Homo sapiens: one gene and its partner. The protein of the gene in region 2 interacts with the protein of the main gene of each other region in a biochemical or structural test. Each region holds a gene or a part of one and is shown on either strand. Other genes may lie near its edges.

Region 1 (3,748 bases), on a different chromosome or scaffold from region 2:
TTGCTTCGATGTCCCCTAAGCAGAACCCAGCAAAATGATGATGTTTTGCAAGCACTAGATCTGGAGTCCAGATTGGGTTCTTTCCATTTTTTTTTTTTTGTTTTTTTTTTTGAGACGGAGTCTCGCCCTGTCGCCCACGCTGGAGTGCAGTGGCGCGATCTCAGCTCACTGCAAGCTCTGCCTCCCCGGTTCACGCCATTCTCCTGCCTCAGCCTCCCGAGTAGCTGGGACCACAGGCGCCCGCCACCACGCCTGGCTAATTGTTTGTATTTTTAGTAGAGATGGGATTTCACCATGTTAGCCAGGATCGTCTCGATCTCCTGACCTCATGATCCGCCCGCCTCGGCCTCCGAAAATGCTGGGATTACAGGCGTGAGCCACCATGCCCGGCCTTTTTTTTTTTTTGAGACAGAGTCTTGCTCTGTCGCCCAGGCTGGAATGCAGTGGCGTGATCTCAGTTCAGTGTAACCTCCATCTCCCAGGTTCAAGCGATTCTCCTGCCTCAGCCTCCAGAGTATCTGGGAATACAGGTGCCCGCCACCACGTCCGGCTAATTTTTATATTTTTAGTAGAGGTGGGGTTTCACCATGTTGGCCAGGCTGTTCTCCAACTCCTGACCTCAAATGATCCGCCCACCTCAGCCTCCCAAAGTGCTGGGATTATAGGCGTGAGTCATCCTGCCCAGCCCAGAATGGGTTCTAATCCCAGCTTGGCAACTCACTAGGAATAGGAGTTTGGGAAGGCAGCATCCCCTAGGAGTCTTGCTTGCCACATCTGTGAAATGTGTATAAGTGTTTCACAAGAGCCTGGAGTCCCTGTGGACTGGAGGAGACGCTGCTCCGGGGAAGCTCAGATCCGTGCCCGGCACATAGTAAGTGCTCCATAAACTATCTCACCGCACTCTGGCTTCCACGGACAAAGGGGTAAAGCCAGCCAGGAACCAGCTTCCTGCTAGGTACAAAAGTCCCCCAACTGGGAAGTCAGGTGAGAAGACATACCTACCTCCCAGTGATCATTGCCTAAATCTGTGCTTCTCCTCACCTCCTTTGGAGCCTGAGCTCACCTGGGCAGGGGGCCAGGTAGGCAGGCATCAAACTCCTGGCCTCGACCGATTCTCAAGTCCCACTTAGGACTCAGGCAGCTTCCTCCCGTCCCCTCTGTCCACCATGACTTCCTGGAACTGGTTTAAGCAAGGGTGGCCATGGCAGATGTCAACACCCTATGAAACCCCTGGGGGTCAGTGACCTGCCTTGCCGCTGGCTCCAGAAGGGGAGCTCCAGGCCAGACCCAGCCATCCAGCAACTTCAGAGCATGCTAAGACTGGACTTCCAAAATTCCAAGGGCCCCAGGTCCCACTGCCAGGCCTAGCCGGGACAAGAACCCCAAAGCAGTTAACGGATAGGCCTTCCTACTTTTAAGCCACCTCGTCGCCACGCCCACCCGAGGGAAGTGGGCAGGCTTTGCCCAAGACCTCCCCAGAATCAGTTGGGGGCGCCAGGAGCTGGGGCAACCCCCACCCCCACCCGTGGCAAAACCATCTGTAGGGGAGGGGGCTTTGCGGTGGCGGGGGGTGTCTCTGAAAACCCCAGAAGGGAGGGCGGAGATTCTGCCCGCAGGAGGAAACTTGCCTGCAAATGGCGTTTCCAAAAGCAAACTGTTCAAAATTTAGAGAAAACCTGGTGGGCGGGGGGCGGTATTTAGCCCACCCCCTTCAATATCACCCCTTCTACGGGGCTCTTTCGCCCCTCAAAAGTCCCAGGAAGTGAGAAGAGGGTTTCAAAGTCTGAGCTTCGTTGCAGAAGTTGGATTTTTCTGGGGGGAGGGGTGACCAGCCTGGGCTGAAGACCCCTCCCCAGGCCGCAGAGTCCAGCAAATCCCACCCCGAGAAAGGCCCTCCCCGACCCCTCCGGCCCCTGGGGTGCCCCAGGACTCCATGGACACCGCCCCCCAGCTCAACTGAGACGCCCCCGCCACTCACCGCGGTCAACCGGACGTCCCAGGAACAGCTGCCGCGACTTCAAAACCAGCTTGGAAACCGTCCGGGCCGAGGCGGGGGTGGCTTTTACTGCGTGGTAGGTTGGGGGCGCACTGGAGTGACGGGCGAGGGGACCAATCAGGTTGAGGGATTGCCCGCGCCAGGCCCGCCCCTCTCCTCCCTGCCCCGCCTCCACTAGGCCCCGCCCCTCGCCAAGTCATGAAGTCCGGGAAGGACTCCACGCCCTGCCCCTGAAGGGGAGGGAGCACTCTTGGACCACGCCTGTCCCAGCCACGGGACCCCCGCTCCGCAGCTGGGGACCCTGTGAAGTTGGCCCTGGGAGGTGAGTGCGATCGGGGGCGCCGCACAGGTGCTGGGATTCCCCAGGTCGCCCATTTCCCCTATGGCCAAACTGAGGCTGCGAGAACCCTGGGAGAGTTGCAGGGTGACCCTCGCCAGCGCGTCAGGGGCCACGCCCTCCACCATGGGCTCCGACTCAGCTATATGTACACACACACACACACACACACACACACACTTTTTTTTTTTTTTTGAGACACAGTCTCGCTCTGTCGCTAAGGCTGGAGTGCAGTGACGCGACCTTGGCTCACTGCAGCCTCCACCTCCTGGATTCAAGCGATTCTCCTGCCTCAGCCTCCTGAGTAGCTGGGATTACAGACACGTGCCACCACGCCCGGCTAATTTTTTGTATTTTTAGCAGAGACGGGGTTTCACCATGTTGGTCTTGAACTCCTGACCTCAAGTGATCTGCCCGCTTGGGCCTCCCAAATTGCTGGGATCACAGGTATGAGCCACCGCACCCGGCCCAACCCAGCTATATGAGTGACTTGAACCACCACGGGAACTTGTCCAGCCTCCGGCCTGATCTGCCCAACATCAGACCACTTCATCCTCCCAGCACTGTATTGTCTTTTTAATCATCCCTATTTTGCAGAGAAGGAAACTGAGGCCTGGAGAGGGTCAGCCAGGGGCAATGGAGGGGTCAGGCTCCAGGCTCTGTGACTGCTGGATCAACCTTTTCCTGAAGCTGCCCCCACTTGGATTTTACCCCGCCCCTCTCCACCTCCCAAATTATTTATCCTCTTGGTCTATAAACCAAGGTCTCAATCTCAGATGGTCCAGGGAGGAGGTGAATATTTCTGCTGAGGAGGTGGCAGTGATGCCCTGCTTAGAGGGGCAGGGGAGAGCAGTGCCCTATGGGAGACCCACCTGGAGAGTCACAGATCCACAGGAAGTTCAAGCTGTAGACATGTCCTGCCTGTTAGGGAACAATTGGACCAAATGAAACCCAACTGGGGCTTTGTCCAGCCCAGGGGCCACCAGTTTGCCACCTCTGCCAAATTATTTGAATAGAATGAAGCTTCTGGTAGCTTTAGAAAGAACATGGGAAAAATTGGGTGTCTGTGACTGCATTTTTTTGGGGGGGTGAGTGGGGACAGGGTCTATGCTAGCACTGTCCAATAGAACTTTCTGCAATTCTAGAATTGTGTGCCATCCAACATTGTAGCCAAAAGCACCACGTGGCTAATGCACAGTGAGAAGCTGAATGTTTAAATTTTTTTTTTTTTTTTGAGGCAGAGTCTCGCTCTGTCTCCCAGGCTGGAGTGCAATGGCGCGATCTCGACTCACTACAACCTCCACCTCCCGGGTTCAAGCGGTTCTCCTGCCTCAGCCTCCCAAGTAGCTGGGATTACAGGCGCGCGCCACCACACCCAGCTAATTTTTGTATTTTTAGTAGAGACGAGGACTAAC
Region 2 (3,748 bases):
AGGTTTCAGAAGACTACATCAAGCCATCAAACAGTAAAGAGGCAAGGATGGCTCCACCCAAGCTGTCATCATTCTTTTTTAAGTTCTTTCATTTCCCTCTTCCCAACTTTGTAGTTTGTTCTGAAAGACTCACCTATACATTAGACTACAAGTTACATATAAATGAATTTTCTGCTGCAGATGCTCTTGTTACAGAGATATTAAAATGTACTATGTGTTGCATATGCCAGAGAATCTTGTACTTTCTGGATAATTAAAATACCATCGATTTATTACACATTCATACGCTTTATCTCTTTCCTCTCTCTCCTGATCCTACCTGCCCTCCCCAACACACACTCTCTCCCAAAGGATGTTCCCTTTCTACAGCTGCTGGAGGACTGGACTGCTACTACTACTCCTGGCTGTGGCAGTGAGAGAATCCTGGCAGACAGAAGAAAAAACTTGCGACTTGGTAGGAGAAAAGGGTAAAGAGTCAGAGAAAGAGTTGGCTCTAGTGAAGAGGCTGAAACCACTGTTTAATAAAAGGTAAATGAGAAGAACCTTAAAGAGCTTGAGAAAATATTTATGTTAAAGTCTTTTCTTCTTACTGATTTTATTTCATAATGTGCTCTCTTTTATGACATAGAGCAAATTCTCAGCCCAGTTTTTAGTTGCTGTGTGCAGTTTTCTCATCTTTCACAGAAGTGTAGCTATTTCCAAGACTGGATCCAAGAGACCAGCTTGTAGAAATTTAAGGATTATTTGACACCTACATATAATAGGACTTTAGAAATATCAGATAAACATATTTAGGCCGACACATGTCATTATAAGTGTCAGGAACCTTCAGATATATAAATCTGAAGTTGGTCCCTAAGAAACGAGACTATCCGATGAACATGGGCCCTTATTCATTGGAACATGGTTACTAACAGGCATTCTAAAAATAACTAGAATATTGAGCTATCAAGATAGCTCAAGTGTGTTTTAATAATTCATCATCAGCAATAAGGATGGTCTGTCAAGGTTATGAATATCTTAAAATTAAACAAATATTCACTCAGCCATGACCTCAAATAAATAAATCGAGCATGTTGTTTGTTTTGTTTTAATTAAGGAAAGGGATGCTGTTATTCCTGAGGCTGATAGCTAGTAACTCTCCTCTTCTTTCTTCCCACTTCTCTTTACAGCTTTGAGAGCACTGTGGGCCAGGGTTCAGACACATACATCTACATCTTCAGGGTGTGCCGGGAAGCTGGCAACCACACTTCTGGGGCAGGCCTGGTGCAAATCAACAAAAGTAATGGGAAGGAGACAGTGGTAGGGAGACTCAACGAGACTCACATCTTCAACGGAAGTAAGAAAACTCCCCTTCCTACCATCGATTGACTAACTGATCCCAAGTCAATCCCTCTGACAATCCTGTATGTCTTGGCCGTTTCTAGTGTCTTCAGCATATCATACGTGTGGTTCGGCACACCTGAGACTGTAATATACCACAGGATGCCTAATTCCACAGCTCCTCTGTAAGCCACAGCTCAGGACAGTTGTGCATTAAAATCAGTGAAAAACTTATGCAAAATGAAGACTCTAGCCAGAATTGTTTTGTTTTGTTTTGAGACGGAGTCTCTCTCTGTCACCCAGCCTGGAGTGCAGTGGCACAATCTCGGCTCACTGCAACCTCAGCCTCTTGGGTTCAAGCGATTCTCCAGCCTCAGCCTCCTGAGTAGCTGGGACTACAGGTGTGTGCCATCATGCCCAGCTAATTTTTGTATTTTTAGCAGAGACAGGGTTTCACAATGTTGGCCATGATGGTCTTGATCTTTGACCTCGTGATCTGCCCACCTTGGCCTCCCAAGGTGCTGGGATTACAGGCATGAACCACCGCGCCCAGCCAACTCTAGCCAGAATTCTGTAGCCTAGAGTCCTTTTATTCACCCAAATACTTTTAATGAGTTTCACACTAGACTTACAAATACCAACCACCACCACCACTTTTCATCAAATTAATCAAAGTTTACCAGTTAAATTTTAAGAGCTCAAACTTTTTTTTGCAAACTACTCAGTCTGCAAAACTTTACCCACTGATTTTTGTGCTATGGTGGTGATATTTCTTAAAAGTCATATTGCTGGAGAGGACCATGTAAGCACCTATGGTCCAATTCCCTCCCATACAGATAAATAAGTTATACAAGGTAGCTATTTACTCCTGGTAAATAATACAATAAAAAAGTAACAAAAGGGTTTGGGGCTGGGGATCATGTGACCAGGTTCTCCTCCTGTTTCCTAATCCTGTGACTGGAAAGTCGTATCACCTTTTGACCTTGTTTTCTCATATGCAAAACTAGGAGCAGAATCTTTACCTTATTCACCTCACAATTACTGAATCAAATGATATTTTGCAAAAGAACTGAACACAGTAAATACTAAAGAAGAGATATGCATTCCAATCTTAGATATCCACTCTGAATTTATCTGGGGCTAAGTTGAAATCTTAGATGGGCTTACCCCTGCTGCTCAGCAATTGTATGGAACCTCTTTTTTTGCTTTTAGAAGGTATTCAGAAAATGAATCAGTGTTAAGGTATGGATCATAATTGGTTTTGCATTGTCAGTTGCCTACCTTTAATGTTAAAAATTAAGATTATTCTTAAATGAATATCTGATTCTTGTCTTAAGGGAACACAAGTCTTTGTAAGCAAACAAGTTTAGCTTGGCATTTCTGGTATACCAAGTTCGTACTGATGAGGGTTGTTTAGTTATAACCAATTGCAATGAATTACGCAATTCCACTCTGCCATACCACCCAGATCTGCCTCTGCTTTTCCCCCACCCCATAGCTCCATTTTCCTTGTCCCTCCTCAGGTAATTGGATCATGCTGATCTATAAAGGGGGTGATGAATATGACAACCACTGTGGCAAGGAGCAGCGTCGTGCAGTGGTGATGATCTCCTGCAATCGACACACCCTAGCGGTGAGGCACCCTGTGTTGTATAAGCCGAGGGAGGAGACTGAAAGGACTGACCTGAGGTTGGGGAGAATATCCAGAGGGGACACGATACGTTGGGATGGACATTAGAAAACTAGGAGCTCAGTTTCTCTCTGTGTCAGACACGCATCTTCCATGGAAAATAGGCTGCTGAACCAGGAAGGAGCAGATGTTTTTTGGGTTTTTTATTTTGTTGGACAGGAGTCAAAACACTTAACCACCTGAATGTGTTATGCCATCTCATCATCAGGACAATTTTAACCCTGTGTCTGAGGAGCGTGGCAAAGTCCAAGATTGTTTCTACCTCTTTGAGATGGATAGCAGCCTGGCCTGTTCACCAGAGATCTCCCACCTCAGTGTGGGTTCCATCTTACTTGTCACGTGAGTATGCCTTCCTTTATCAGAACAGACCTTCCTTCCTTTTGTTTTTAAGGTCAGTAACTATATGGTGGTACATAAGCACAAATTGTATGTGTACATTATGCTGTAATTGATGGGGATAACTTTTTAAATCCTCTGGCTATAAAATAATTCTGCCAGGACACAGGGCTCACGCCTGTAATCCCAGCACTTTGGGAAGCCAAGGCAGATGGATCACCTAAGGTCAGGAGTTTGAGACCAACCTGACCAACATGATGAAACTCCGTCTCTACTAAAAATACAAAATTAGCCAGCACAGTGGCACATGCCTGTAATCCCAGCTACTTGGGAGGCTGAGGCAGTAGAATCACTTGAACCTGGGAGGTGGAGGTTGCAGTGAGCTGAGGTCGCACCACT

The links.
Region 1: the proteins of M6PR (region 2) and PLIN3 form a complex in vitro, tested with the Homo sapiens proteins (2 studies listed by BioGRID).

Annotation. Positions count from the first base shown.
Region 1 is NC_000019.10:4,865,631-4,869,378, forward strand, and holds the start of PLIN3 (perilipin-3), read right to left. Parts: upstream 2,038-3,748; 5' UTR 1,979-2,037; intron 1-1,978. UniProt on the Homo sapiens protein: Structural component of lipid droplets, which is required for the formation and maintenance of lipid storage droplets. Required for the transport of mannose 6-phosphate receptors (MPR) from endosomes to the trans-Golgi network.
Region 2 is NC_000012.12:8,943,009-8,946,756, reverse strand, and holds part of M6PR (cation-dependent mannose-6-phosphate receptor isoform 1 precursor), read left to right. Parts: exon of another isoform or gene 1-41; intron 42-351; 5' UTR 352-352; coding exon 353-528; intron 529-1,172; coding exon 1,173-1,339; intron 1,340-2,846; coding exon 2,847-2,956; intron 2,957-3,172; exon of another isoform or gene 3,173-3,203; coding exon of another isoform or gene 3,204-3,221; coding exon 3,222-3,352; intron 3,353-3,748. UniProt on the Homo sapiens protein: Transport of phosphorylated lysosomal enzymes from the Golgi complex and the cell surface to lysosomes.